Homo sapiens: one gene and its partners. The protein of the gene in region 3 purifies or fractionates together with the protein of the main gene of each other region. This does not show direct contact. Each region holds a gene or a part of one and is shown on either strand. Other genes may lie near its edges. The genes, in order: CLUH, ELAVL2, ZAR1L and GPHN.

Region 1 (7,023 bases), on a different chromosome or scaffold from region 3:
CCTGGCCTATGACCACAGGCCTTAGACGCCATCTGGGAGCAGGTGGTGGCCGCCTCATCTGCCCAATCCCACCCACCCCACCGCCCCTGCCCCGCACGCACCACTCGAGGTCGAAGTCAAAGTAGTTCTTGGCCTCCTGGCAGATGTTCTTCCAGAGCTCCTGGGGGGTCATGACAGCCCAGGCTGTGTTATCTGCAGCCCCCGGGGGCCGGTTTTTCCTCCTCTTATTCCGCTTCTTGGAGACCAGCTCGTCGGCGGGCAGGTGGGCCACGGGGTTTGGGTAGGAGCTCAGGAAGCAGTTCAGGAAGTGGCTGATGGCGGCTGAGAGGCCGGAGAGCTCGACTCCCTGCGAGGCAGGTTGGATCCGAGTCATGAGGGCCCTCAGCCCCACCTCAGGCTCTTTCCCGACGCCCCACACCACCCTGGGAGGCCATGGCCAGCCGCAGAGCGGACGGGTGGCACCTGTAAGTACGTCTTGAAGATGTGCTTGGCCGAGCGGGTGATGAGTTCTCCAATGCCGATTTTCTGGAAGGATTCAGAAGGGAGGTCTTGGTCAGGCCCCCGGCCTCCATCCCAGTCCCACAGCTCCCGTTCCGCCCCACCCCGGGCAGCACTCACAAAGACGTGGTCCAGCTGGTGGCGGGCCGGGCTCCGCAGCACCAGCTCCAGCACCTTGCCCAGGTAGCGCATGTTGATGCCCCGCTGGCGCATCACCTCTGCCAGCGTTGCCCCGTCCACGGGCAGGACCGCGTGCTCCATGCAGTCCTTCACCTGCGGGCTGCAGCAGCTCAGGCCCCCACCCAGCTCCTCTGCCTCCACCCAACTGAGTCCTTCTGGGGGAGCACAGCTATCCTGGGAGGCCCTGGAGAAGGACCCCGAAGGCTCCAGCTCCCAGTCAGGATGTCAGAATGTGCCCAGCCTCTGGCAGGAGCGCAGGCCAAGAACCAAGAGCCCGGTGGTGGTACAGGCCCCCTCTAACCATGTGGGAGAAGCAGAGGTGCCCGCTTGGGGGCACTACTTGACCCCCAGCCCCGTGTCCTGAGGCTTGGAGGCCACGGTGTTGGGGGAGCACCCAGCATCCTGGAACCAGACACAGAGCCTGCGGGAGGAGGAGGAGGATGGGCAGCCCCCACTGAGCTCTGGCCCCGTCCCCCAGCCATGCCACCATCCAGGGCTCAGAAGACTGGATTACCAGCTGCCAGCCCACACGGTGGGCTCAGCAGGGCCTGTGCCCTTGACCTCTGGGGGTCAGGCTCCCCATCTGTCAAACGGGGATGCCCACTCAGGGAAAGCTGAAAAAGTCACTCCTGCGAGCCTGTGTTCATGGGCCTCCAAGTCGGAGACAGATGAGGGACCAGCACCCTCCACACAAGCCCCACCCAGCCCCGCAGCCCCTCCCTCACCAAGCCAGGGATCTGGCAGGAGAGCAGGAAGGCAGCCGCGTCCTTCAGCAGCTGCTTCTGGTCCCGAACTTCATCCTGGCAGGACTCAGGGAAACGAACCCCTGGAGGAGGGAGAGCAGAGAGGCTGAGCCAGGCAGTGGCAAGACAAATGCCGCCTGGCGCTGGCGGGGGAAGCGCTCAGATGGGGGACAAACCCACCAGCCCCAAGGGCCCAGGCCCCCCAGCGAAGCTCTGGCCCTGGAGGGCTCCTGCGCTGGCCGGCCCCCACCACCTGCCTGGTGAGAAGATGTCAGGATTGAAGCGAATGTCGAAGGCGGTGCTGCTGATGGAGCCGACCGCCTTGCACGCGTTGCGGATCACCTCCCGGCTCCGAGGGTCTGCTGTGGAGACATGGCTCCATGAGACACGGGTCCCCTCTGCCACCGGTGGAGCTGGGCTGCGCCAAGCCTCGCCCCCTAGCTCCTTGCAGAGATGTCTGCCAGCCTCTCCCAGGTGGGGGTCATAAGCCACCCTGGCAGGGCCAGCCCGGGCTCTCTCCCGGCCATCTGCAGCAGCCCCACCTGTGCCGTCGTCTGCGGCGATGGTCTCTGCCAGCTCCTTCACCTTGGCCAGGCCGCTGGCGCTGCTACCCTCCTCCTCACTTCCCGCCTCCTGTCCTGGAGGATCCTCAGACTTGGACTCCAAGGAGGAAGGACCACCATTTTCCAGGGAGGAGGGGGTCTCCAGCTGGCTGGCGTTCTGCTGCATCAGCTGCAAGGCGGCCAGCTTCATAAAGAGGAGGTACCTGGAGCAGAGGAAACAGGGCAGAGCAGGAGCTGGACATCGGGGAGAGGAGCTCTGCTGGCCCACGGCTCCCGGCAGCTGGGGCTCCACACCCCGCAGGCATAGGGCACCTCCTGGCCGGTGTGCATGAGTCAACGCAGAAAAACCAAGATCTCCCAAGACAGGAAGAAAAAGGCGGCCGGGCGTGGTGGCTCACGCCTGTAATCCCAGCACTTTGAGGACGAGGCAGGCAGATCACTTGAGGTTGGGAGTTCGAGACCAGCCTGACCACCATGGAGAAACCCCGTCTCTACTAAAAATACAAAAAATTAGCTGGGCGTGGTGGTGCACGCCTGTAATACCAGCTATTCGGGAGGCTCAGACAGGAGAATCACTTGAACCCGGGAGGCAGAGGTTGCGGTGAGCCGGGATCGTGCCATTGCACTCCAGCCTAGGCGACAAGAGTGAAACTCCGTCTCAGAAAAAAAAAAAAAAAGGCAGCTGCGTTCTGGAGGGTATGGGAAAAGAGGAGCTCCCCATCCAGGTCAGGGCTCTCAACAGTGACAGGAAGCCACTGGCATTTGAGAGTTACTCATGCTGTGGGACCTCTGACATGGCCATTTCCCCATTTCCTAAGCACTAAACACCAGCGGCGGGGACCCCCGGTGCCCCACCTGCCCGCCCCAGCACGGGGACAGTCACAGCCACCCAGACTTCCAAGTGCTCCTTAAGAGAACAGTGTCCGCCACAGCCACATTACCCGCCTGGCTGCTCGCGAGTCTGCAGCCCGGGTTTCTGCGCTCGGGAGCCTGACAGCAGGGCAGGTGGGGACGGGTCTCCAATGACTGTGGCTAGACGGAGCCCTTCTTCACTCTCCAGCGCTTCTCCCTTCAAGGACCCAACCCCGGATCCACCCAGGGCGCCCGCACTCCCTGCAGCTGGCCCCGGCCCTGGTCCGGCAGGGCCGCCCCTCACCTGTGCTCCACGAAGGCGTCCACCAGCTCCTGGCGCAGGCAGCAGAGCTTGTGCCGGTGGGCGCGGGGGAAGCCGGCGCGGGCGCATTCCTCAGGCAGCTCCTCGCCAGGCACGGGCAGGAAGTTGAGGTCCGGGGGGAAGGTGCGCAGCAGGTCGAGGATGTAGTGGCGCCCGTCGTTGCCAATGATGCCCTTGCACTCGACCGAGGAGCAGAGCTCCACCTCCTCGTCACGGTCGTTGAGCACCTGGTGCCGCAGGATCTTGAGGGGCCGACTCGTGCGCTCCAGCAGCTCCAGGTACCGCGGGTGTGACACCACGGTCTTGCCGAAGTCGATGGAGCCGTAGATGACGCTCTGCTCCTGGTCCCGCTCCAGGATGCCGGGGATGATGGACTGGGCCGTGACCCGGTAGCCGCGGTAATCCACCACCACCGTGCCCAGCGTGTACAGCCCCTCCACGTCCACCGCGTTGTACGTGCGGACGCCATTCAGGTCGTTGGTGGGCGCCACGTAGGCCGCCACGTCCCCCCCGAAGTCCTTGTAGTGGTCTCGGACGTCGAAGCCCAGGCTGAAGAAGATGTTGTTCCAGATGAACATCTGCATCTTGGTCTCCTCGCTGGGGTTGATGGCCATCACGTTGCCGTCAATGACGGCCATGGCGCCCCTGGTGGCTGCCGCGGTGAAGTCGCTGTGCACCTGGCGGGGGTCGAGGAGGGCAGGGTTAGAGGCCGCGCCCACAAGAGCCTGCATCCACCTGGCCAAGCGCACGCACCTAGACCGCGGAGGCAACCGGGCCTGCCTTGGAAACCCAAGGACCCGGAGCCTCAGTTTCCTCATATGTAGAAAAGGGCAAGAAAACCATGTTTTGGCCGGGCGCGGTGGCTCACACCTGTAATCCCAGCACTTTGAGGGGCCGAGGCGGTCAGACCACTTGAGGTCACGAGTTCGAGACCAGCCTGACCAATATGGTGAAACCCCATCTCTAATAAAAATACAAAAAAAATCAGCCAGGCGAGGTGGCGCGCGCCTGTAGTCCCAGCCACCCGACAGGCTGAGGCAGGAGAATTGCTTGAACCCGGGAGGTGGAGGTTACAGTGAGCCGAAATCACACCACTGCACTCCAGCCTGGGGGACAGAGTGAGACTCCATTTCTAAAAAAGCGCAAACAAACCAAAACCCCCATGTTTTGAGAATACACTTGTGCTGAGGGAGACAGCAGGGCTTAGTGATTAACAAGCGTGCGCAGGTTTGGGATCCACCAGTTATGTGCCAGGTGAACTTGAACAGATAAAGGTATTGACCTTTACAAGTTGTCCAATATATTATAGGAAATAGTCTCTATAACGCACTTGGCACCATCTCTGGTGAAGTCGGTACCCGAGAAATGAGTTTTTGTTTCTACAATTATCATCTCTAGGCAGTATAACTATGGGAGGTTGGTTGTTTTCAGACAGGGTATCACGCTGTTGCCAAGGCTGGAATGCAGCGGCACGAGATCCGAGCTCACTGAAGCCTCGACTTCCCCTGGCTCAGGCCATCCTCCCACTCCAGCCTCCCGAGTAGCTGGGACTACAGGCACATGCCACCATGCCTGGCTAATCTTTTGTATTTTTTGCAGAGACGAGGTTTCACCATGTTTCGTAGGCTGGTTTCCAACTCCTGGGCTCAAGTGATCTGCCTGTCTCAGCCTCCCAAAGTGCTAGGATTACAGGCGTGAGCCACTGTGCCTGGCTGAGATTTCTTTTTTTTTTTTTTGAGACGTAGTCTTGTTCTGTCGCCCAGGCTGGAGTGCAGTGATGCAATTTCGGCTCACTGCAACCTCCGCCTATTGGGTTCAAGCAATTCTCCTGTCTCAGACTCCCGAGTAGCTGGGACTACAGGCATGCGCCACCACACCCAGCTAATTTTTGTATTTTTAGTGGAGATGGGGTTTCCCCATATTGGCCAGGCTGGTCTTGAACTCCTGACCTTGTGATCCGCCCGCCTCGGCCTCCCAAAGTGCTGGGATTACAGGCATGAGCTACTGAAGCCGGCCTGAGATTTTTTTTTTCTTAAGCAACTGCTTTTCCTCATTTCTCTTAGTAACCCAGCACTAATAACTTTTAAACCCCAGCAAACTAAAAGTGTTATGCAAATGAGCACCCGCCCTAGAAGGGCCATGGCCGGCCAGTGCTCGCCCAGGCAAAAGCCCCGCAGCAGTCACAGAGGGCGGGAAGCTGCACGGCCCTGGACACTCAGTCCCTATGGGAAGTAGGGCCCGCTCCTTCCAGGGACTCAAAGCCTCAGAGAGGCCAGAGAAAGGTACTGGGATGGTCTGCTGGGAGGCGGAAGGCTAGCAGACCCTGCGGGAGACGCTGACTGGCCTTCGGGGAACCTGACAGGGTTAGGGCTGCCCCTGCCTCCCTTGCTTTCCTCCTCTCCATGAGAAAACCCGTCAGCAGGTGGACAGCGGGCCTCAGACTGCCGGTCAGCAGAGGCTGCAGGCACCTTGAATATGGCCCTTTCTCGGAGCAGCCGCTCAGGCAGGTTCTTGCGAGGCAGCTCCCTCGTCGTCTGCAGCTCCTCATTCCAGTCTCGGGTCTGCAGAGAGATCAGGGAGGGAAAAACGAGCTCAGCCTGTGCCCTGTGACCTGCTCCCGGAAGTCGCTCCTTCTACCTTCCTGAGAAGAGCCCCAGACTCCCAAATGAAGTCAAGCATGGGGCCTCCAGGGAAGTGCACGGAACCAGCCCAGCACCCAGGAGGGCAGGGGTGCCCAGCGAGGGCAGGGCCAGGTTGCAGGCACCTGTCCAGGAATGTGCTCCTCATAGCCCAGCCTCGAGGTGTAGGCGTCCTCTGCACGCACGCAATCCATGGCATGCTCCGCCTGGGGGGCTGTCCAGCTGTACACCTGGAATGGGGTGGCGATCCTCTCGAACGGGTGGCGCTGGACCCTGTGGCAGGCAGGGGAGGGGGAGATGGGGCAGCCCACCAAGCTCAGAGCCCTTCCACGGGCCCCTTTTCTGAGGCCCCCGCCTGCTCCGGCATCTCCCACCCTGAGACACTGCCCTGGAGCCAGATGGAAGTGCACGGGCGCCTCTCCTGCGGCTGCTGTCTCGGCACTGGCCGACAGCTCCCTAGAGCGGGGACTCCAACACTGGGGGCCCAGGGCGGTTTCTTCAGACAGAAGCACTGGAGTGCAGGTGGGCCGGCTCACCCCATGCCCCCGTGTGCCATGAGACAAGGCGGGAGGGGACAAAGGCACTACCTTTTCTTCTGCAGCACAGCGAAGTTCTTCTTGAAGGTCGGGCTGATCTGGTTGAGCAGCTCCACTAGGGAATGGCTTAGGAAGCGGGGGCTGGCGGGCTTGGGGTTGAAGTGATAAGCTGTGGACCTGCAGGGAGAGGGCGGGCACTGAGCGGGGGCCCAGGTGTCTGCCCAGACCCAGGACGGCTGGCACGGCAGGGGGGTGTGGTGGGCTGGCAGGGACTCACTGATTCAGGTAAAAGCCCCGTGTGGACGCGGTGATGCTGACTTGCCGGTCCTCGGCTGTGATCACAAACAGGTACATGAGGTCCCCGTGCATCTTCCGGTTCCCCGGGGGCGGGTTCCATCCGCTCATGGTGAGTACTTTCAGGCACTGCAAGGGCTTCGGGAGCGGCCGAGTCTGAGGGGCCAGGCCTCTGGTGTGGGGCCTCCACCCCGCCAGGGACCCTCTTCCTCCCTCCCCCAGGATCCTACCTTCCAGTCACGGTTTTGGGGCTGCAGGGGACACAGTGGCCGCTCCCGGCTCCCTGGCAGGATGTACTCGGGTGGTGTGCAGTCGATGGGGTCCATCTCCAAGCCCTTCTTCCGCTTCCCGCTGTCTGAGGGACCCGAGGCTGGTGGTCAGCACAGGGCCACCCAG
Region 2 (7,758 bases), on a different chromosome or scaffold from region 3:
GTTAGTATCCCTGAAAGAAACGGACATAAGTCTCTGATTTGCCCTTTTTCACCTCCGGGTTTTTTGGGGTTTTTTTTCCTTCACCCTCGCCTAGTCGCCTAGATTTTCCCTTTTTATGCTCAGGAAAAACGTGAGTTTATCCTCCTAAAAGTTGCTATTGAGTAAAAGAGGGGAAGGAAATCTGGGGACATTTGTGGGAGCGTCTACATAAAATAATCGTCGATCTGAGGCTGCAAATATATTTTCCTAGACACTCTGGGACATGTGCAACAGATCTTAGTCTGAATATCTGCAGGCAAATCATCTAAAGGAGAATGAACCTCATACATTGGTCCAGGAAAAAAAAAAAAAAGGTGTGTGTGTGTGTGTGTGTGTGTAAGTGGGGGGCTGGGAAGGGAGAACCAACCTAGGCTGGTCTCAAAGATTTACCGCGACACTAGTTACATTTTTTAAAAGAACATTTAAATGAACAATTCATGTGTCTTTAAGTGTAAACAGCAACCTCAGGATTCGGGGGGAATATTCCTTGAGTGTGCTCTCTTACTTTACAGTCTTTCCCCCTTGAACAGGAGTTTACAGACACAATGTAAAGAGAAAGTAAAGGATGTTTGAGATCCCGCTCACTGCCGCCCCTGGCACTGTCCCTAACGAAAGTGTTTGCAATGTAAAGAATCTTTCGCAAAATAGTCTTGGGAGTCACTCACCTTCCAGTAAAAGGCTTTACCCCTTTGCTAGGGGGTGGAGGGAGCAGGGAGAAGAACGGGGGGAGGGAGCAAGGGTGAGCAGGCAGGCATTTTTGCTGCAATTCCAGCTGGGATATTCGAGGATTAAAAACTCTGGAGCAGGTTTACCAGACTTTTCGAAGACTACCTGGATTTGCATTTATTTTTCATGAACACTCTGAAGAAAGGCGAGCTCACGCCGGCAAGGGAGTGTATGTAAAACAGGACAGTGGAAGGTGCACAGCGAGTTCGGGGCTCTAAGTCTCCTGACAGTTTGTCATGATGGCTGAGTCCTAAGAAATGCCAGCCTAATTCAAAATAAATGAGTTTCTGTGGAGTAGGACAGTCTTTTCCGCAAAGTCCCGTGGAATAAAACATTCCCAAGACACGCAGTTTCCGTGTCTCACAGAAAGGGACAGAAAACACCGTCTCAAGCTTTGCAAATCTTAATTTGAGGGCTGCTCGTCTCTGTCCATGGTGCTAATTCCTGCCTCTTTCTCTTGCGTGGTTGCCACGGTATAAATTCACACTGGTGTCAATTTTCACAACTTTTCCCCCCTTTCGGTGAAAGGCAAGTCCACATACTACTTTAGGAAGAATAAATAAAAGAGTAATCAGCAAGATATATGATATCTGTATTTCTCATGCAGACATTAAACTATCATATTTCCAATAGTATGAACCATAACCCCCTACTCCACCATACTAACACATAACATTTTTATTCATCTAAGAAGGTTTACTGTTGGAAATTACTGCCTTAAGCCAAACATTGTAAACTAATTTTAATAGTTTAACTTCTTTATTTACTTACAAAACGTTACAAGTAGTTTACAGTAACTTTTATTACAAAATGTAAAATCACTCCTTCCCTTGCTCCCAGGACCTCTAGTGTAAGGGAGTTATTTATCCTAAAAGACATTTTCCACAACAGCTTTGCATATTCTTATGAATAAATGTTCTCTTATATAGAAACTTCAGTAAAATAATTAAATTCATGACTTTTTCGGTTTTGAGAACTATTCTTTTGCAACTTTATCCACCTCACACTTTTGCTCCAAGTTCGCAGTCATTCCCTTCATCTCTCCCTTTTCTGCTGCAATTCAAAATAATGCCAGGAACTTGGAAGATATGTCAGAGTTCATATAACTTAATCATATTCAAATGTCTTTTAAATACTTTCTAATGCAAATTCAGATGTTGTGGATAATTCTTTTACCAAACTATGAGTGAAAAGGGGTTGATTGCATTTTTTGCTTATTCTTAAGTGAGATGTTTGCACATAGGCTTCATTAATTAATCATAGGATAGTATGTATTTGTTAATGTTTCAAGCTATGAGACATGAATTTCAAAGTGAAATCTACATCCAGATATCACTTGTTTTAAAGAGGCTGTAATCAATATTTTTTATTTTTAAAAGTTGAAAAAGTACATGTTGCTTATAATACATCTATCCATTTAAAAGTTTTAAAATGTAAAAACATCTGTTTTAATGAGGAAGTAAAATAATATTTTAAGATACTTTCACTTTTTAAATAATTTAAGTCCATCTCACCTACATAAAAAGACAACATGTTAGGGATGACAATACTTTGAATAATATTTTGTCACTATGCCCAAGCTGAAAAAAAACCATAAATACTGAATCTACAGAATTTAGCATTTTTCATTTGAATGAACAAGTTTACTATTTTCCATGTAATTTCTTTACATAATACACATGCTAGATTTTTATTACTCCATATCACTCCCAGCTTTTCACACCTGTCCCTATCATTTTGGGTTATCTACAGATATCACAGTTATCTACAAGTCTTTTTTTGTGGATATAAACATGCACCAAAAAAAGTATTAGTTTCCACCTAGTTAGAAGGCACTTATATAATTATAATGGTAAAGATTTACTTCAATGTACTGAAATTATATGGGCATATGCAACTAATTCAATATTAACCTACGAGCATGGTAAAAAGGAGGAAAGACAATTCACTGCCTAGGTAAGTCTGATGAAATCAAACAGTATTATACTTTCCCCAAATTGTATTCATTTAAAGGTTATTTCTCTGTATGGAGCTGGGGACAAGGGGAGGGGTTGAAGGAAGATGACTACAAACCCAATCTTCTGTTATTCATACATCTAGTCTAGATGGGGTGGAGTCTTCCTTTTCCCCCTTGACTCCATTTCTTCAAAGTGCTTTTCTTTCTTCTTGCTGTGAGTTTCACCCAGGTCTAGAGAATAGTTTTAAGTTGAAATTAAGACTCCAGAGGTTGTTATACAAAAACTGGGGGTGGAGGTTAAGGCATGATTTTATAAACACTAATTATAAGATAACATAGATTCAGGCCTTCTTTCTCAAGCCCCAGGTATTGTCATGCAAAGTAACAGAACTCGTATATTGTTATACAGGCTACACGGGAGATAAACAGGTCTGTTTTTCACCATTAATCATTTATCAACACTCAAGGACACTCTCAAAGAACACTGATTTACTGTATTCCTCACTTCAAAGTCATTTTGCTTTGGGATCTTCTGTCCCATTCCCCTCCATGACACCCTACCCTTTTGCAATCTCTAACTCTTACCTGTGTCTTCTTTTTCCGGCATTCTCAAAGATAGCGACTAGTTGTAAATATGTAAAGGAATCCCTTTCAAAAAGGCATGTGCCTCTGGTTAAGACACATTACATGTGTAATGTAATGTGTACATTACATTTACACATTCTGGTAAGAATGGTAAAAACTGTCTAGGAAGTTGGTGCTATCTTTCAAGATTGAAAAGAGAAATGCTGGCTGGAAAAGAACGTAGGTCAAATGAATATTGTGTCTACTTATACATCCAGACGATCCTGAGGACCTCACTTTCACTTAGAGGAAGAAACAATTATCATGCATAAAACTGTATTTTGGTCTCCTGAATGCTGTTAAAATATGGGGTTGTAATAAAGTAGTCTTCCTCTATGAAGCAGAAGCATTGATAGCACTTGGTCTTCTGGTTAAACTTCTTAAATCCTCACAGAAAGAGCCCTGATAAAGGTTCAACTATCTTTGCTGTCAGCAATACATGTGTGGTCCAAGGACTGTACCTGTCTGCAAATGCAGAGGAGTGGCTTGTTCCAGTTTTATATACAGCTGCTCTTTTTGAGAATCATTAGACACCTCGAAGTGAAGGACCTTAGCTCTACTCAATACCTCTTTTTCTGGATAGGATATTTATCCTACACTTTTCTATTCTAACATGAAGTGAAAGCCAATTCAAACCGTGCAGCTTTATTTGAGAGCATTTCTGACTTCATCTTTATCTTAAAAGGATGCTTTAAAAAGGGGTTCATGGGGACACATAAATCTGAAATATGCGTATATTAAAATAAAGACATACAATTACCTAACATCTAATACAAAATACAGTACTGAACACAAATCGAAAAAAGGCATGCGGGCAAATAATGGATGTACATTCATCCCTTTCACTCAGATCAAAGAGAGGGAGCTCTCAATGACTCATACATACCGGACAGAGTTAAATGTTATAAAGAAATATGCCACAGATGCAGCAGTGATGGCAAAGGAAATGAATCTTTCTGAAGCAGAAAGATTTAAGAGGAAAGGAGATCGTGCCATATCGCAAACTCTGATAGTACAGTTCCAACCCTCCCACGTTGCTCTCTCCACATTTCTTTTTGCTTCTTGCATTTCCCTTCGCCGCCAGTGTTAAGAGTGTACCTCCCCGCACAACTTACCTTGAAACGGGACTCCATTGAGCTCTCGAGAGTGACACAAGCCCATAGCCAATCGTCTCACGCGGCCCCGCCTGGGCGGCCTCAATGGAAGCGTGTGGACCAATCAGGATCCTGGGGCGATGAGCAAGTTACGTTGTGGCGCGATTCGGCGTATACTTCCGCGCGTGCTGCCCGGGATAGGAGCCTGGCAGAGCAGCTGCACACACGGCAGTGCGGAGGCAGAGAAGGGGTTGGTGATACGGTGCTATAAATCTGTGGTCCAGTCCACCTCCCTTTTAAGACGTCCTCCCCCCTATTTCTGTTCTTAGTTAGAGATGCAGCAGCTTACTCCTGTAGCGACCTACTAAAAAGCAACAAGGAGAAAGACATCGTCTTTTTGAAAAAACGTTCTTTCGTCTCTTTTCTTTGTTCCTTGGTTTGTTTTTCTTGCCCCTTTTTGTTTAGTTGAACGGCAATAGGAGGGTAGTCTCTCCGTCTTTTTAAACTCTTTTTTAAGTTTCCCCTCCCCTTTCATATTTTTTTTCGCCATTTCTTTTAGCATTGGACTTTGGGGTCGAAAGCGTTTCTTTTTATTTGCTTCTTTTAAGCCGAGCACAGTTTAGGTTTCGTGCTGTCTTAAGAGAACTATCCAGCAGCTTCTTGCTCATCCTTATTGGGAGAACTGCACCGTTACTTTAAAAACACACATACACAAAAACCTTAAGGGAGAAAGGTAAGTTTCGGTTTGGTTTCTTTAATCATTAGTTGCAGCGATGCGCTGGCAAACCCAGAAAACCTGTAAGTGAGCGGAATACAGAATATGAAGTTAATTGCACATGTTTGTCTCATTTCAAAGCTACTGTTCTGCTTTTTTAATTTTAAAGAGCTAGACTAAAAGACGGTGGACGCATGCTTAGCGTACTGAATATTCGTAAATGTCCATGGCAGAAACTTAAGTGGTAAATGTGGCCAGGGGGGAGTAGGGGTACAATGGGAGGTTAGATGTGGAGTGAGCTTCAAGATTGAGATCGGAAGTTCATTTCGTGGGGAGAGAGTGATAACTTGGGTGTTGGGGATGCATGCCTCTACTTTGGCTCAGCAACGGAAGGACGGGAGAGGCTTTACAATCATTAAGGGGAATCAGAAGCCTGGACTGGCAGATTAGACCAGCGAAAACCACAGGCTTAATTGCATTAACCAGATAGCATGTGCTGGGGAGATGGGATTGCCAGATGGAATTTAGATGCTGCACCAGGCAGCGAGTTGTAGTTGACTGAAAAAAGTACATGCCGCCTGAGGGCTGGGGCTGGGGCTGGGCTGAGGCTAGGGTTGTTAGAAGCTGTCAGAACTCATCATTGTATGCGGGCTCTGATTCACGGACTCCAATTATCATAATTCAGTTTTAAAAGAAGATAGCCAATTTGGGGCTGAATTCTTAAGCCTGTACCGGATATGAGATTCCCTTTGTTCAGAAAAGCGTAAATAAGATCCTTGGAGCTGTGTCTATGAAGTGCCGGCTGCTTGGGAGCCTCGCTGTGCTGGGCGCTGGGAAGTGGATTCCAAGCCCTGTCCTTGGTCCTACGCGGCTGACTTCGCCTTCGGGGAGAGGGGGAACCCCTCTGCAGCCGCGAGGCTTCGCAGCCACCCCAGGAGCCAACTCGGCCACGTAGCCCTCACCCCCTCCTTACCGCCCCCACTTCCTCGAATAGCTATTGTTAAATTGACGCCAGGAGAAAGATGGTTGGGGATGACAAGCTGGGCAGATAGGCACACGCTTCATTTTAACTTTTGTGATTTCTCAGGGTTTAGGAGAAATCATTTGGCTTTCTACTGCCAAAGAGAGGATCCAGGGTAGATGTGGGAAAGGGGGAGGATGTTCGTGGGCCGGGGAGGGCGGAAGGGGTGGTGGTGGTGGAACAAGCTGCTGGCTTTCCTAAGAGAAGTTTAAATTATTGGCACGAGGGGGTGTGGGTGAGTGTGTGCGTGAGAGCGCTCATGTGGTGCTCGAGAGGCAGAGGATGGGAAAAAGCTACAAAGCCGGCTGGGGTTAACGTCTCGTTGCTCCTCACCCCACCCACTCTACCGGCTGGGAAAGCCAGCGCACCGTCAGCCTCCCGGACTGGACTCTGCGAAGGGCGGTGGGGGCTAGGGATGGCAAGGTGGCAGTGCCCACCACTGGAGCTCCGCGGCGGACGAGACCTCGCGTGGCCATTGTTGCTTAATTTATGCCCAGCACGTTGCTACGTACCCACCTATTTCACGTCTGTACAGAATTAATACGAAAGCTATACAACTGTGACAAATTGGAGGTTGGATAAGTTCCCCGTTTCCCATTTTCAAGTACCGGTTAGCAAAACTGATGGCGAGACTGGGTATTTTCTCGTAATTACCGGCTGCAGGTCTGGTTTTATTATGGCGAGGGTGAGAGAAATAGCCAACCATTTAGTATTTACTGTTAACACTGCTGGACAGGGATGGAGGTCTCTGTACTTTCTCCCCGAAATGCACGGATTCTGTCCCTTCCCCCTCTCATGTACAAACACTCCAGTTGGTTAAGATTCTAAACCTTCAGCCGTTCTCCGCACCCCTATTTATTATACCCATCCTCTGGGGGTGGGAGGGAGATTAATGTTTTATTTCCCAGGCCTACACTATTAACTGCAACCTATAAAACGTAGACTTACAATGAAAATTTTTAGAAAGTACACAGCAGACAATAGTAACTAAAGAAATTATTTTCCAAATTGAAAATCAGTTTCTAAAGGTCAGAAAAAGGGTGTTCGTGTTTTGGGGAACAGAAGGGTAGGAAATGTGTTTGGGCCTTAAGACTTCCTTGTAAAATGGCTTCTTAAATGGGACATCTGAAAGATTTGTCAGACTATGAACAGATAAGCCCGCAAAAAAATATGTTGAGAGTTTCGAAGTTGTTATGGGGTTAACATTTTATTTTTTAACTCTCGCCCTTACTTATTGCTGTCATTGCCTGAATGTGTCTTACAGCAGGCACTTCTTCCCCGTTCCCTCTTTTAACCAAGTGCTTGGGCACCCCGCTTCATAAAGCTAACCTGTTCTGGAGCTCTTCACAAAAAACGCTACGGTTGTAGGAAGAAGTGGTTTGGAAGACTTGGGGAACTCTTCTGAGAGCTCTCCCATAATTTAGTCAGCGTCAGGAAGTAGGGCGTAGGGCATTCTAAGAGTTTTAGGTTTGGATTGACAAATTAAGTAGGCCCATTTTCGCCTAACGTTTTGGAAATAGGCATTTTTAGCAATCCCGCGTGCCTGGGATGAGAATATTATAATTAACTATTTACTGAGAGG
Region 3 (7,443 bases):
TGAATGACTGAATATATAATCTTATTACATAATTGCTTAGAAACATGCGGCACCTACGCCAGGGAAACTCCTTCCAAATCATGATACTTATAGTATATCGGTAAAATAATCTCTGTCCTCTGTGATAGCTTGCAGAAATATAGTTTAGTTTAATTAACATCAAAACAAGTCCTAGGTTTTTTTGGCATAAGAAAGACGTAATTCAGCAAATCTCAGTTGGCAAATTTATCAAAGGAGGGATGAAAGAGAACATTTACTAAGTACCTACATTATTTAATTTAATCCAAACCTATGAGACATTATTTTCATCGTCTCCATTTTTCGAGTGAGGAAAAAGAGGCCAGAGAGACTGATTTGCCCAGCATGACACAATTAATGAATGAGCTAAGATTTTAACACAGGTTTGCCTAAATTCCTAGTTTGTAGTTCTCCCCAGTCTACCATATTGCATTACTTACCTAAGTCTAATTTGAATTTATCTAATTCTTTTACAGGAGATTGGTACAGCGGCAGAGTCAGCCCTTGCTCTTTGAATATTATTGGAGTTGAAGCCAGCTGATTATAAGATGGTTTCCTTTGTGGAGTTTTAAATAGGTTTGGTTCGTAATTGTTGTTTTTATGTTCAGATTCTTCTGCAGGTTCAGAATTATAGGGTGGAGCTTCTGAAGAAAGTTCTTCAAACCAATTAAGACTTATTGGTCCTAAATCTATTTAAAAAAAAAATCCCACCTTAGTTTTAACCAGTGACAGACAAATTTGTGACCCAGAACAGTTAAAGATCATAAGGAAAAAAATGCTTAAGATCTTGACTATGGATTACTTTTGTTAAGGCATATTAATTAAACAAGATCATTAATCCATTCTCTTGCGAATCTATAGAAAGGTGTAACAAGAGTTCACAAAAGTTACAAGATGGCATTTAACTATATTATTAAAAGCTGTATATATTAGCTTTTATTTTCATTTAAATTTTATTTATTTTCTTATTATTCATGGTTCGGAATCAAAAACTATTCACATTAAGAATACATTCCACGATAAAATTCGGCCAGGTGCGGGGGCTCACGCCTGTAATCCCAACACTTTGGGAGGCTGAGGCGAGCAGATCACGAGGTCAGATCGAGACCAACCTTGCTAACACGTTGAAACCCCATCTTTACTAAAAACACAAAAAATTAGCCAAGCATGGTGGCACACGCCTGTAGTCCCAGCTACTCCGGAGGCTGCCACAGGAGAATCACTTGAACCCAGGAGGCGGTGGTTGCAGTGAGCCGAGATCACGCCACTGCATTCCAGCCTGGGCAACAGAGCAAGACTGTGTCTCAAAAAAGAAAAAAAAAAAAATACATTCCACAGATAAAATTCAAAAAATTCAAATAATTCTGAAGAGTACTCAAGATGTGGCAAACTATGGGTATGAGGAACATGTGGACTCTCACATAAAATGGGAATTCTCTCTTAAAGGGAAATGACAAATTTGTATTGTGAGCTATTCATCCTCTACCATTACAGTTCAAAACTACTTTCATAATAACGCTATGGAATCATTTCCCTTTTTCATGATGTTGACATTTGTATCAACAGTGCAAAGATGATGCTGGGTAAAACTGCTGGCACATTTGCATGAGTTATGGCAGTGGCACCAAACTAATACTAGTAGCCATTATATTCCTTACCACTGAGTGTCCTTGTTAAAAATAATAGTAATAATAATGCCAGTTTAATGTAAGAATGTCCTAATGAAGCAGTAAAAATTAATTTCGAAGCTCAATGCTTTAGCACTTCTTTTAATAATCTCTGACAAAATAGGAAGCATACATAAAGCACTTCTGCATACTGAAGTACAATACTGCCTAGAAAAGCACTCATGTTGAGCTGTGATCTGAACAAGCAATTTTTTCAATGAAAAGTCATTTTTACTTGAAAGAACAGCTGACAAAGTTATTTCAACTTAAATAATTTGGTAGACATTTTCTCACAAATCAATGAAGTGATCTTGTTGCTGCAAGGAAAACAGTTTGTTGTCAATGACAAAATGTGAACTTTCAAATGAAAATTAGAATTTCCAGTGGCTCATTTCTACCCAATCTTAAAAGACTTTTCTGACATCCATGGTGGTATTAATGAATGAGATTTTTAAAATAGTTTAATGCAATTTATCAATATTTGGAAACTTTGTATAATTCAGAACACCACTATCTTCCAAATAATCACTGCATGATGTTGCGACATGGGAAAGACCTATGGTATATCTATTAGATCTTTGAAAAATCTATGCAAAGTACAAGGAAAAATACCAAAAAGTAACTGAAAACTATTAAAATATTCCTTTTTTCAACGTGAGGTTAATTTTTTTTCACATACTTCTACCAAAATAACAGATTAGACACAGATAAGTGAATCCAGCTATCTCTATTTAGCCAGACATTAAAGAGAACTGCAAAAATGTAAAAACTATTCCACTCACTTGTTTTCAAAAAGTTATTTTTCCTAAGAATGTTGTGATAATATGCAATGGGTTAGCTTTCATTATTTTTAAGTAAATTAACTTTAAATTCTTAGTTTTTTGTTTGTTTGTTTGTTTTGAGACAGAGTCATGCTATGTGGCCCAGGCTAGAGTGCAGTGGCATGATCTTGGCTCACTGCAACCTCTGCCTCCAGGGTTCAAGCGATTCTCCTGCCTCCACCTCCCGTGTAGCTGGGATTACAGGCACGCACCACCACACGCAGCACATTTTTTGTATTTTTAGTAGAGATAGGGTTTCACCATGTTGGCCAGGCTGGTCTCAAACTTCTGGCCTCAAGTGATCCGCCCACCTCGGCCTCCCAAAGTGCTGGGATTACAGGCGTGAGCCACCACGCCCAGCCTTAAATTCTTAGTTTTAAATTTCTAATATGGTAAGCTACATAAACAAAAGCACTCCGGGGGTCCTAGATCATTTTTAAGAGTATAAGGAGTACTGAAACCAAAAAGTTGGACAACTTCTGCCATAAAGTAACATTAATGCTTCTGATTTGTTAGTAATTGTTCCTACTGCTAGTCAAGGGGCCAGTTTCCTCTTTATCCACTAGACGTTCTATATTTATCATGTGGTTAACCTGCAAACGATGATTATGTTGTTAACTGGATTTATACACACATAAGGAACAGTTTATGGTTCTAAGCAACACTGTGACGTACTGGGTTTTTAGCAAGCATTTTTTAGAAAACACTTTCTCGGTGTAATTTATAAAGTTATATAAAATTTGTCAATACCTGCTTTGTTGCAGCGTGTCTTAAAAATTTCAAAAAATGTTGGCCTCTCTTTGGATCCAATAGGCATTTTTACCTACGATATTCCTCCAATGCTTGGTAAATAAGTCTGCAAAACAGAAGACCAAAATGCACTTACACAGGGATGCATTCCTTATTATGTGACTGAGGTAAAACTCAGAAGCGCTGGAAAATTTGTTTGAATTCTAATTCAGTCCCATCTCCTGGAACGGTAACAGCTTACTGTGAGGATGGGAACATTTTACAGCTGTGCTGTCCAAACCGGTGCCACTAGCCACATTAAGCACTCGAAACGTGGCTAGTGCGACTAGAGAAGAGGATTTTCATACGATTTAGTTTCAATCACGCTAACCAGTGACGCGTGGCTAGTGGGGACAGAGGGCTCCAGTTAGAGACCAACGCCGCCTGGTAATTCCCATCAGCATGTCTTCGGAATACAGCAATTACCAGGGGCTTAAGTAAGGCAAATACAGCGTGCCCAGCAGCTGTAAAACACTTCCCCAAAACAGCAATATTCCGTTAAAGTGATCGTGTTTCCAAGAAATTTCAGATGGCGTCATCTGGGACAGCTGGGAGGGAAGTTAAGTCTTGAGCTGAAGGCGGAGCCCAAAGGCCGGGCCGGAGGCGGGAAATGGAGACCCAGGGAAGGGGCGGGGCTCGAATTTGCTTGGCGAAAATCTGCCTTCGGGCAAGGACCTTTCTCTCAGGCATGGGTGGGGGTTGGCAGAGACAAAAGGGCAAGAAGCCGCGGCAGCGACCCGGGGCGTGAGGCGCTCCCCCGCCACGCTGGACTGGGACTGCGGAAGACGCGCTCGTCCCAACCCACTACCACCACCACTAACCCGCTCCAGAGGTGCAGTTCTTTTTTGGCCGGAGTAAGCTGACAAAAACCGCGCCGGTCACAAATCTGTCCCCTCACGCTTCTCCCGGCGGCGACCCACCGCCGCAAAAGACACCCGAGGCGCAGCAGAGGCGCAGCAGTGCCACAGCGGCTCCGCCTCTGCCGCCTAGTTTCAGAAGCTCGCGCCACAAGCCCGCGCTGGCCACGTGACGCCGTGACGCGACACGCAGCACACGCACCACCCGGAAGTCAGGCCTGGGTGGGCCGCTGCGGGTATTTCTCAGTGTGGCGAAAGGAAATTCCTTGTCAGGCATCCCAACCGTCAGTATCTGACCGAATAAAGCGGGAGCTGGAGTGTGTGTTCTCTTCTCGCTGACCCTTAAGAGTCCCAGGCCACCCTGCTTGGAGGGGCCGCCCCTATGCCTACTCCAAGTCCCCCATCCCTTTCTTTTTGCTCCAGCTCATGTTTGGGTGGGCGCCCTCGGGACACGACCTGGGACCTATGAAATACCTTTGTTCTGACCTTAAAAGGGATGTTCTCTCAAGACCTGTTCCCCAAAGCGAGCCGATCTTACAAAAGCTTAGAGTGGTCGGTGTGTGGTTGTGGATGACTTCACTTAGTGGTAGTGGGCGGGGCTGTTATTTGAAATCAGAGGATTTTAGTTCCAGTAGCTGTTCTGCTATTGGGTAGCAGGTGTTCAAGACCTCCGAGCCCGTTTCCTTGCTTGAAAAATTGTGAAACCCATCTTAACTCGCTCATGAAGTGTGAGGTACCTTGCTCCGCAGGGCTTGGTAGTATCTTTTGCTTTTTTTTTTGAGACGGAGTTTCGCTCTTGTGGCCCGGGCTGGTGTGCAATGGCGCAATCTCCGCTCACCGCAACTTCCGCCTCCAGGGATCAAGTGGTTCTCCTGCCTCAGCCTCCCGAGTAGCTGGGAATACAGGCATGGGCCACCACGCACGGCTAACTTTGCATTTTTAAGTAGAGACGGGGTTTCTCCGTTGTTGGTCAGTCTGGTCTCAACCTCCCGACCTCAGGTGATCTGCCTGCCTCGGCCTCCCAAAGCGCTGGGATTACAGGCATGAGCCACCACACCCGGCCCATCTTTTGCATTCTTAGGATTCGGATCACCTGTCTTCCTCGCAGGCTGAACTGGAAGACCTGACTTCATCTCCGAATTCGTTGGTTCTGTAACATGCCTAATACAAGGCTGAATAGGGTTTGTTGTAAGACCTACAAAACCTTCAAATGGATTCAGTGAGAGTTGCTCCCATGGGGGCCTTGCTGCTTCCAGAAGGTGCTTGAGCAGTAAACAGAAGCAACCTTGGATTAGGAAAAGGGTGGGCTCCGCTTGGTTCCTTAGGGACCATTTTAGTTTGATAATCAGTAATCCTTAGTTGTAGAAGGAGGCCTTACTAATGCAGATAGATTCTAAAGCTTTTGCTCTAAGTCTAATTCGCAAAGAAATACGTCTGTGATCCTTACTAATAACAGCTGCCACTTACCAAACATTTTATGAGTTAGGCATTCTGCTTTGGGTTTTCAAGCAATACCATGTTTAATCTTACAGTAATCCTGTAAATTGGTCAGTATTGTCAGATGAGGATACTGAATCAAGTAGTTAAGTAATGTGCCTGGTAGTAAGGCCCAGGTTTGAATTCTAGTCCATTTGACTTCATACACTTAACTAACCTGTGATTTATTTACCCTATAAATCAGAACAATATGCTTTGTCCCCTTTTTGTGGGGGAGGGGTGTCTCACTAGGAGTGGACTAATGAGAACCCGTGGCATGTCACACAAGTCTCAGAAATAACATTTTCTGTCATTTTATACAGCCCCCCATACCTTTATGTTTCTTGTTCTCTTTGTACCAGGGACTTGCAACTTATTAGCTCCACCATAATAGACTTTCTCACCTATTCTCTTCTAGTGCAGCTGCTCAATTTACTATTTGTATTCAATTTACAATATGCTTTAATTTTTCTTAAAAACATTATTTCCAGCTGGGCATGGTGGCTCACGCCTGTAATCACAGCACTTTGGGAGGCCAAGGTGGGCAGATCACCTGAGGTCAGGAGTTCGAGACCAGCCTGGCCAACATGGCAAAACCCTGTCTCTACTAAAAATACAAAAATTAACTGGGTGTGGTGGCATGTGCCTGTAATCCCAGCTACTTGGGAGGCTGAGGTGGGAGAATCACTTGAACCCCAGAGGCGGAAGTTGCAGTGAGCCGAAATCATGCCACTGCACTCCTGCCTGGGAGACAGAGCAAGGAAACTCCATTTCAAACAAGCAAACAAACAAAAACCCAAAAAACCATTATTTCCTAAAAGTTGTATATATTTAATGTGCACAACATGTATATGTACACAGTGAGATGATTACTATAGTCAAGCAATTAACATATCCATCTGTTCACATAATTACCTTTCTTTTGTGTGCGGTGAGAGCACCTGAAATTTCTCTTTGAAACTTTTCAGTATAAAATACAGTATTGTTAACTGTAGTCGTTATGCTGTAAATTAGATCTCTAGACTCATTCATTCTACCTAACTGTAACATTTTAGGCTCTGACCAGTCTCTCTCCATTCCCCCCAACTTCCTGTCCCTGGTAACCACCATTCTACTTTCTGCTTCTATGTATTTGACTTTTTCAGATTCCACATATCAGTGAGTTTATGCAGTATTTTTCTATCTGGCTTATTTCACTTAGCATAATGTTCCCCAGTTTCACCCATGTTGTTGCAAATGGCAGGATCTCCTGTTTTTTGTTTGTTTGTTTGTTTGAGACGGAGTCTTTCTCTCTCTGTTGCCCAGACTGGAGTGCAGTAGTGTGATCTCAGCTCACTGCAACCTTTGCCTCCCGGGTTCAGGTGATTCTCCAGCCTCAGCCTCCCGAGTAGCTGGGATTACAGGAGCGTGCCACCATACCCGGCTGATTTTTGTATTTTTATTAGAGGCAGGGTTTCATCATGTTGGCCAGGTTGGTCTCGAACTCCTGACCTTAGGTCATCTGCCTGCCTCGGCCTCCCAAACTGCTGGGATTACAGGTGTGAGCCACCGCGCCTGGCCAGGATCTCCTGTTTTAAGGCTGAATAATATTCCATTGTATAAATACATGCCACAATTTCTCTATCCATTTTTCTGTTAACAGACACTTAGATTGTTTCCATAACTTGGCTATTGTGCATAATGCTACAACGAACAAGGAAGTGAAGGTATCTCTTCAGGATATTGATTTCATTTCCTTTGGGTAAATACGCAGTGGTGGGATTACTGGATTATCTGGTACTTCTATTAACTTTTTTAAGGAACCTTCATACTGTT
Region 4 (7,023 bases), on a different chromosome or scaffold from region 3:
TTCTTCCTCAGGCCAGTCATTTTCTATTAACATTATATCCTGAGGAGGCTTTAACTGAATTTCCCAATACACTTAGCCATAACCTAAAAAATAAAAGTCAAAAGATACTGGCACGTTCTTAGAGTCCTTCTCAGACATTAACAGACCAGAATGTCTCCCAGAATGATGCTACTCAGGTTTGCAGGCTTGTTGGATTCCAAAAATAAGAGTGGTCTCAGCAACATATGACTTCACTCTTTCAAGCATCTGTTACAGTTGAGCTAAGAAACAATGTCATCTCTTGTTCTGAACCTCTTTGGAGATACCAATGCAGTATTATTTCCCTTACTGCATAACCTATCCATTCATTCCTTTACCCTCAGCTACCATTCTTCCTTCTCTCTATTTATACCCAAACTTTTTCACCTTTTAAAGAGTTGTAAGGTTTGGCCACTGTGCTGATTCAGATTGCCGTTGGTAATACTAGTTTAGCAAGTTCCTCCTGCACAGTCTATTCCTATTCATTTAGAGTAGGATTGTATCCCTTACCTTCATTTTAGCTAGCATAGATAACAATAACCAAGAGATTGTGTGTTTAACTTCTTTCTTTATATTTTGCATCTCCTTATGCATCCAGTGAGATAACTTTTTGGGAATTATCTCCATTAACTAATCACAGTAAAGAAGCAATTCCATGCTGTGGTTGACACTGTCTTCACTCAGGGATCAAAGGTTCATCATCCCACACCCTCTCTTCACTTCCTAAGCCATGTATTTCAGTGAGTCAGGGTCTTTCTAGAAAATCTTATTTTTGACACCAACTGTAAGGAGTTTTAGCCAACTGCAAAAAATAGCCACCTACAAATGTGGAGTACTCCACAAAATTGCTCATTTCTGACCCTAATTGCAAATTCAGGAGATCCTAAAATGACCTTCAGGTTTAATAATTTACTAGCATTCATGGAACTCACAGAAAGCTGTTATACTCATGATTATTGTTCATTGCAAGGAAAGAATACGGATTAAAGTCAGCCAAGGGAGAAAGTGCATAGGGCAGAGTCTAACAGAAGTAACAAATGAGGAACTTCTGTTGTCCTCTCTCTTTGGAGACATGGACATGTCACCCTTCTGGCGTCAATCTGTGATACCACACATGGAGTAATGCCAGCTGGGGATGCTCACCTGAGCCTTTGGTATCCAGAGCTTTTATTGGGACTCAAACACTTACTGCCAGTGTGGCTGACCTGTAATCTTTAATCCTAAAGTAGAGAGAAGCAATTGGGGGCCTTCTATGTAGAAAGTGGGGTCAGAAGGCCAAGAAAGGGAGTATGAGTATATATCCAAGTCACTTAGGAACTTTTATGCAGGTGCAAAAAAACTTATGTCAAAGTGGCCACAAGATTATTTAATAGACAGATGAATGAAAGTCCATGTTTACTGCTAGACACGAAAGCTTTGTGTGAAATCTTGAATTAATGGGGAGAGAGGGAGGGTAGCCTATACCTGTCTGTTCTTTTCCTGATCCCTTTCCCTCATTCCTGAACTGCAGTCTAACATTGTTAGACTGTCTCTGGTGCCCAAAGTCCATGGACAACAAAGACATTCCTATTAGGCGTGAAATTCCAAGGACCTAGAGATCACTCCCAGAAGCTGAGTGTAAAGACCAGACCTCTCCTCGGTCAAGGTTAAATTCTTTACCACACAATCTTTAAAGAGTAAACTGATTGAGCCATACAAAGATAGGTCGAAAGATTAAACATCTTTCCCGATATTATGTAACCCTCCAAAAATTTTTAAGATTTTTTTTTTTACATCTTAGATTTTAAGCTATTACTTCAAATGTGAAAGAGAAAGACCTCCACCTCTTCTGCAGCTATAGCTGGCCTTATATTCTGATTTTTAGGTTCTTACCTATTCTCTTTTGGTAATACGTTATAGATAATAGTGAGCACCTCAGCAGCAGATTATATTAACTTTATGCAGTGCTCTTTGCAAGCTTATTTTATATTTTGCTTGCTGTACAATGTTACCTAGCTATACTTTATGATGGTAGTTAGAACTTTAGCTCTCTGGACAAAATAATCTGGTTCTCACCTCGGTTGTTAGTTCTACTGCCCTGCTCTAACTAAAAATATGAAACCTCTTTCCTGCCTTTTTTTAAACAACTTCAGTACCAATAAATCTTTATTCATTGTATTTTCCCAAGAAAAGGAGAAGGGATAGGAAAAGAGTCAGCATGTGTGTTAAAAAAATGATTAGAAGATGGGAAAAGAAGTAGAGAATACAGCAAAATCAACCATCAAATAAACATACCCCAGTGGTGGGGTCACCGAAGCCCAAACGGGCTCAATCTCCTGCAGTTCAAGAATGAGGGGTTGGGATTAGGAAAATAACAGACAGGTACAGGCTACTCTCCCTCCCCATAAATTCAAGATTTCACACAAAGGTTTGGTGTCTAGCAGTAAACACAGAGTTTCATTTGTCTGTCTCCTATTAAACAATCTTGTGGCCACTTTGACATAAGTTTCTTGCATCTGTGTAAAAGTTCCTGAGTGCCTTGGATATAAATATTCATATTCTTTTACTTAGCCTCCTGAGCCCACTTTCTGCATGGAAGGCCCCCAGTTGCTTCTCTCTACTTTTGGATTAAAGATTAAGTAGATTTGGCCAGGCGTTGGGGCTCAGGTCTGTAATCCCAGCACTTTGGGAGGCCGAGGTGGGCCGATCACAAGGTCAGGAGTTCAAGACCAGCCTGGCCAACATGGTGAAACCCCATCTCTACTAAAAATAAAAAAAAACTAGCCAGGCGTGGTGGCAGGCACCTGTAATCCCAGCTACTCAGGACGCTGAGGCAGAGAATTGCTTGAACCCAGGAGGCGGAGGTTGCAGTGAGACAAGATGGCGCCATTGCACTCCAGCCTGGGCGACAGAATGAGACTCCGTCTCAAAACAAACAAACAAAAAAAAATGGTTAACTAGATTTGACCCATCCAAGATACAGCAGTGTCTTAAGTGTTTGGCATGAATCACATCAAGAAATGGTCTTGACTCAGGAGGTTGGGAACAAGGGATGAAGGGCTCCTAGTTTCTTCAGGATTTTTGCATAAATCATTTAAGAGTTGTAGAAATAACGCAAGAATTAAATGTGTGTATGTGAGTATGTAAGTTTTCTCTTGGGGAGGAGGGGATGGAAAAGAGGGTAGTATACAAGTTTTTAGAATGTATTTATTTATTTATTTTTAGAGACAGAGTCTCACTGTGTCACCCTGGCTGGAATGCAGTTACACAATCATAGCTCACTGCAGCCTCAAACTCTTGGGCTTCTTTCCTATCTTTCCTGTCTTTCTCATAATGCATCTTTCAACTACCAAGTTGTATATAGAAATTTTACTTTTTTTAAAATGCAGTGCATGCTTTTTTTTTTTTTAGAGAATGAATCTGATTCTGACCATCCATGCCTGTCCTCAGTCTTATTTTTTTTTATTTTTCCATAAGTTATTGGGGTACAGGTGGTATTTGCTTACATGAGTAAGTTCTTTAGTGGTGATTTGTGAGATCCTGGTGCACCCTTCACCGAGAGGTATACACTGCACCATATTTGTTGTCTTACCCCTCACCCCCCACACTCTTTCCCATAAATTCCCATAAGTCCCCAAAGTTCATTGTGTCATTCCTATGCCTTTGCGTCCTCATAGCTTAGCTCCCACATATCAGTGAAAACATACGATGTTTGGTTTTCCATTTCTGAGTTACTTCACTTAGAATAATAGTCTGTAATCTCATCCAGGTCATTGCAAGTGGTGTTAATTCATTACTTTTTATGGCTGAGTAATATACCATCATATATATATAAAATAGTTTCTTTATCCACTCATTGATTGATGGGCATTTGGGTTGGTTCCACGATTTTGCAATTATGAATTATGCTGCTATAAACATGTGTGTGCAAGTGTCTTTTTTGAATAATGACTTCTTTTCCTCTGGGTAGATACCCAGTAGTGGGATTGCTGGATCAAATGGTAGTTCTACTTTTAGTTCTTTAAGGAATCTCCACAGTTTTCCTTAGTGGTTTCACTAGTTTACATTCCCACCAGCAGTGTAGAAGTGTTCCCTGTTTACCGCATCCATGCCAACATCTACTGTTTTTTGATTATTTGATTATGGCCATTCTTGCAGGAGTAAGGTGGTATTGTATTGCAGTTTTGATTTGCATTTCCCTGATCATTAGTGATGTTGAACATTTTTTCATATGTTTGTTGGCCGTTTGTATATCTTATTTTGAGAATTGTCTGTTCATGTCATTAGCCCACTTTTTGATGGGATTGTTTTTTTTTTTTTTTCTTACTGATTTGTTTGAGTTCGTTGTAGATTCTGGATATTAGCCCTTTGTCAGATGAGTAGATTGTGAAGATTACAAAACACTGCTGAAAGCAATCATAGACGACACAAACAAATGTAAACATATCCCATGCTCACGGATTAGTAGAATCAATAATGTGAAAATGACCATACTGCCAAATGCAATTTTCAAATTCTATGCCATTCCCATCAAAATACCACCATCATTCTTCACAGAGTTAAGAAAAACAATTCTGAAATTCATATGGCACCAAAAAAGAGCCCGCATAGCCAAAGCAAGACTAAGCAAAAAGAACAAATCTGGAGGCATCACATTACGTGATTTCAAACTACACTATAAGGCCATAGTCACCAAAACAGCATGGTACTGGTATAAAAATAGGCACATAGATCAATGGAACAGAATAGAGAACCTAGAAATAAAATCAAAAACTTAGAGCCAACTGATCTTCGACAAAGCAAACAAAAACATAAAGTAGGAAAAGGACACCCTTTTCAACAAAGGGCGCTGGGATAATTGGCTAGCCCTATGTAGGAGAATGAAACTTTATCCTCAACTCTCACCTTATACAAAAATCAACTCAAGATGAATTAAGGACTTAAACCTAAGACCTAAAACTATAAAAATTATAGAAGATAACATTGGAAAAACCCTTCTAGACATTGGCTTAGACAAGGATTTCATGACCAAAAACCCGAAAGCAATTGCAATAAAAACAAAGATAAATAGCTGGGACCTAATTTAAACTAAGGAGCTTTTGCATAGCAAAAGGAATAGTCAGCAGAGTGTATGTTTTTTTTTTTTTTGTCACTGTAACTATTTTTATTACATCACAATAATTAGGAGTAGTACAGTTCATGACAAAAATATTACAAATTTTAGATCATTTCACAGCACATACTCCTATAAACATTTAAAAGTTAATTTCAATTAAAAGAGTGGTCATTTTTAATGTTTCATATGACCAACATTGTAGCACTGTAGTTCCTTAGCTTATGGAGAATGCTATAACATATTTTATGCTTACTTCATGGCATATTGCTAAGACAATGTTTTACATATGATTGATTCTGAGATTGATGGAGGAAAATGCAAATCCAAAATCACGAAACAGTTTGATTGCCACCATCTTATATAATTACAAAAGTGCTTCATCTTAATTTTTTTTTCTTTCTCTTGCATACAGGAATGCTTTCAATTCATACTGCCAGCTCTACCTCATGCCATTGACCTTTTACGTGATGCCATTGTAAAAGTAAAGGAGGTGCATGATGAACTTGAAGATTTGCCTTCCCCACCTCCCCCTCTTTCCCCTCCTCCTACTACCAGCCCCCATAAACAGACAGAAGACAAAGGAGTTCAATGTGAGGAAGAGGAAGAAGAGAAGAAAGACAGTGGTGTTGCTTCAACAGAAGATAGTTCCTCATCACATATAACTGCAGCAGCCATTGCTGCCAAGGTAAGCCTGATGAGAGTTACTCAGAGGCCTAAAGGACCCACAGGTAAATGTACTGGTTTCATCTGTTTTGCATCGCATCCCTCCCTACATTTAATACTTCTTCAGAGAACCCTAAAAAAATAAGTGGGATGTCCATGACACTCCACTACTATGTTTCCTTCTTGATATAGATTCCTTGAAGTCACTGAAGTTAATTCTGAGTTCTGAGGCATTACTGATGAGCTGTTGCCTATTGAAGTAATAGCTACAATGATAAACAACGTGACATTTTAGAACTCTTTGGAGATGTCATTTTTGTGGACATATTAAATATATAATGTTTATATATTCAAAGTATCAAAATGTCACAAATTCTTAAAGGAACAGCAAACTGAAGGTAAAAGACCTTAGATGATTCAAGAAATGAGTTGGGAAAGATTAATAAAGATTTTTAAAGGGACAAAGCTTTTCAGCGATTGTTGAATTTTTCTTAACTAATAACTTATTCAAACATTGCTTGACACAAATTACCCTAGTGGTAAAGATAGGAAATGGATATATTTGCATTTCTACTTTAAGAAATATTATTAGGACAATATCAAAGTATTACAAATTCTCTTTGGGCAACTCCATGGGTAAATATACTACCATGAGTTACTTGAGTAAATTTAACTGTCTTAAAGTTATAGAACATGGTTTATTCTTCATACCTACTAAAGTCAACCTAGTATGCCTTAATATCTACAGAAAGTAGCATATCAATTCTGGAAATTATGATTTTTCATTAAGAGCATAAAGATTGAAAATTTAATTGCTATATGACATAATTATCAGATTTTATGGATTATCCAGTTATTTTGGCTACGAGCATTGTGAGGTTTTTTTTTTAATAATATATAGATTAGAATCATCGAGAAATCCTTTTGAAGTGTCCATTCAGTGATCCAGTGAGTGCTTACTAAAGGCTAGTAAGTATTTAAGTTTTGTGTGATTTTTTTTTTATGAAACCAATTGGTGAAACAGGCATTTTTAAATCATTATATGTTCCTTTTCCTTTACTCTGAATTAAAAGAGTAAGAAGTGCCATAAATTTCAATCTTAGGAGAGAAGCTTATGGCATTTAAAATCTAAGCTGATTCTGTCATTCTACATTTGGAAAATGTTAGCATTTCATTTTTCCATTTGTTTTTACCTTTTTTCCTTTTTAGTCATTTTGCTTGTATAGTTTCATGTTTTCCTGTCACTA

Evidence for each region.
Region 1: the proteins of ZAR1L (region 3) and CLUH purify together in Homo sapiens (co-immunoprecipitation; 2 studies listed by BioGRID and IntAct, with this or other methods). This does not show direct contact.
Region 2: the proteins of ZAR1L (region 3) and ELAVL2 purify together in Homo sapiens (co-immunoprecipitation; 2 studies listed by BioGRID and IntAct, with this or other methods). This does not show direct contact.
Region 4: the proteins of ZAR1L (region 3) and GPHN purify together in Homo sapiens (co-immunoprecipitation; 2 studies listed by BioGRID and IntAct, with this or other methods). This does not show direct contact.

What each region holds. Positions count from the first base shown.
Region 1 is NC_000017.11:2,694,756-2,701,778, forward strand, and holds part of CLUH (clustered mitochondria protein homolog), read right to left. Parts: intron 6,983-7,023; coding exon 6,858-6,982; intron 6,766-6,857; coding exon 6,611-6,765; intron 6,511-6,610; coding exon 6,385-6,510; intron 6,071-6,384; coding exon 5,923-6,070; intron 5,720-5,922; coding exon 5,627-5,719; intron 3,836-5,626; coding exon 3,141-3,835; intron 2,188-3,140; coding exon 1,964-2,187; intron 1,784-1,963; coding exon 1,679-1,783; intron 1,505-1,678; coding exon 1,404-1,504; intron 772-1,403; coding exon 619-771; intron 526-618; coding exon 463-525; intron 347-462; coding exon 102-346; intron 1-101. UniProt on the Homo sapiens protein: mRNA-binding protein involved in proper cytoplasmic distribution of mitochondria.
Region 2 is NC_000009.12:23,823,221-23,830,978, reverse strand, and holds the start of ELAVL2 (ELAV-like protein 2), read left to right. Parts: upstream 1-4,738; 5' UTR 4,739-5,173; intron 5,174-7,758.
Region 3 is NC_000013.11:32,312,341-32,319,783, reverse strand, and holds the start of ZAR1L (protein ZAR1-like), read left to right. Parts: upstream 1-4,420; 5' UTR 4,421-4,469; intron 4,470-4,638; exon of another isoform or gene 4,639-4,707; intron 4,708-5,233; 5' UTR 5,234-5,454; intron 5,455-7,443. Other genes in the region: BRCA2 (breast cancer type 2 susceptibility protein), read right to left, coding at 459-707, 3,257-3,323. UniProt on the Homo sapiens protein: mRNA-binding protein required for maternal mRNA storage, translation and degradation during oocyte maturation.
Region 4 is NC_000014.9:66,917,141-66,924,163, forward strand, and holds part of GPHN (gephyrin), read left to right. Parts: intron 1-5,525; coding exon 5,526-5,798; intron 5,799-7,023. UniProt on the Homo sapiens protein: Microtubule-associated protein involved in membrane protein-cytoskeleton interactions. It is thought to anchor the inhibitory glycine receptor (GLYR) to subsynaptic microtubules.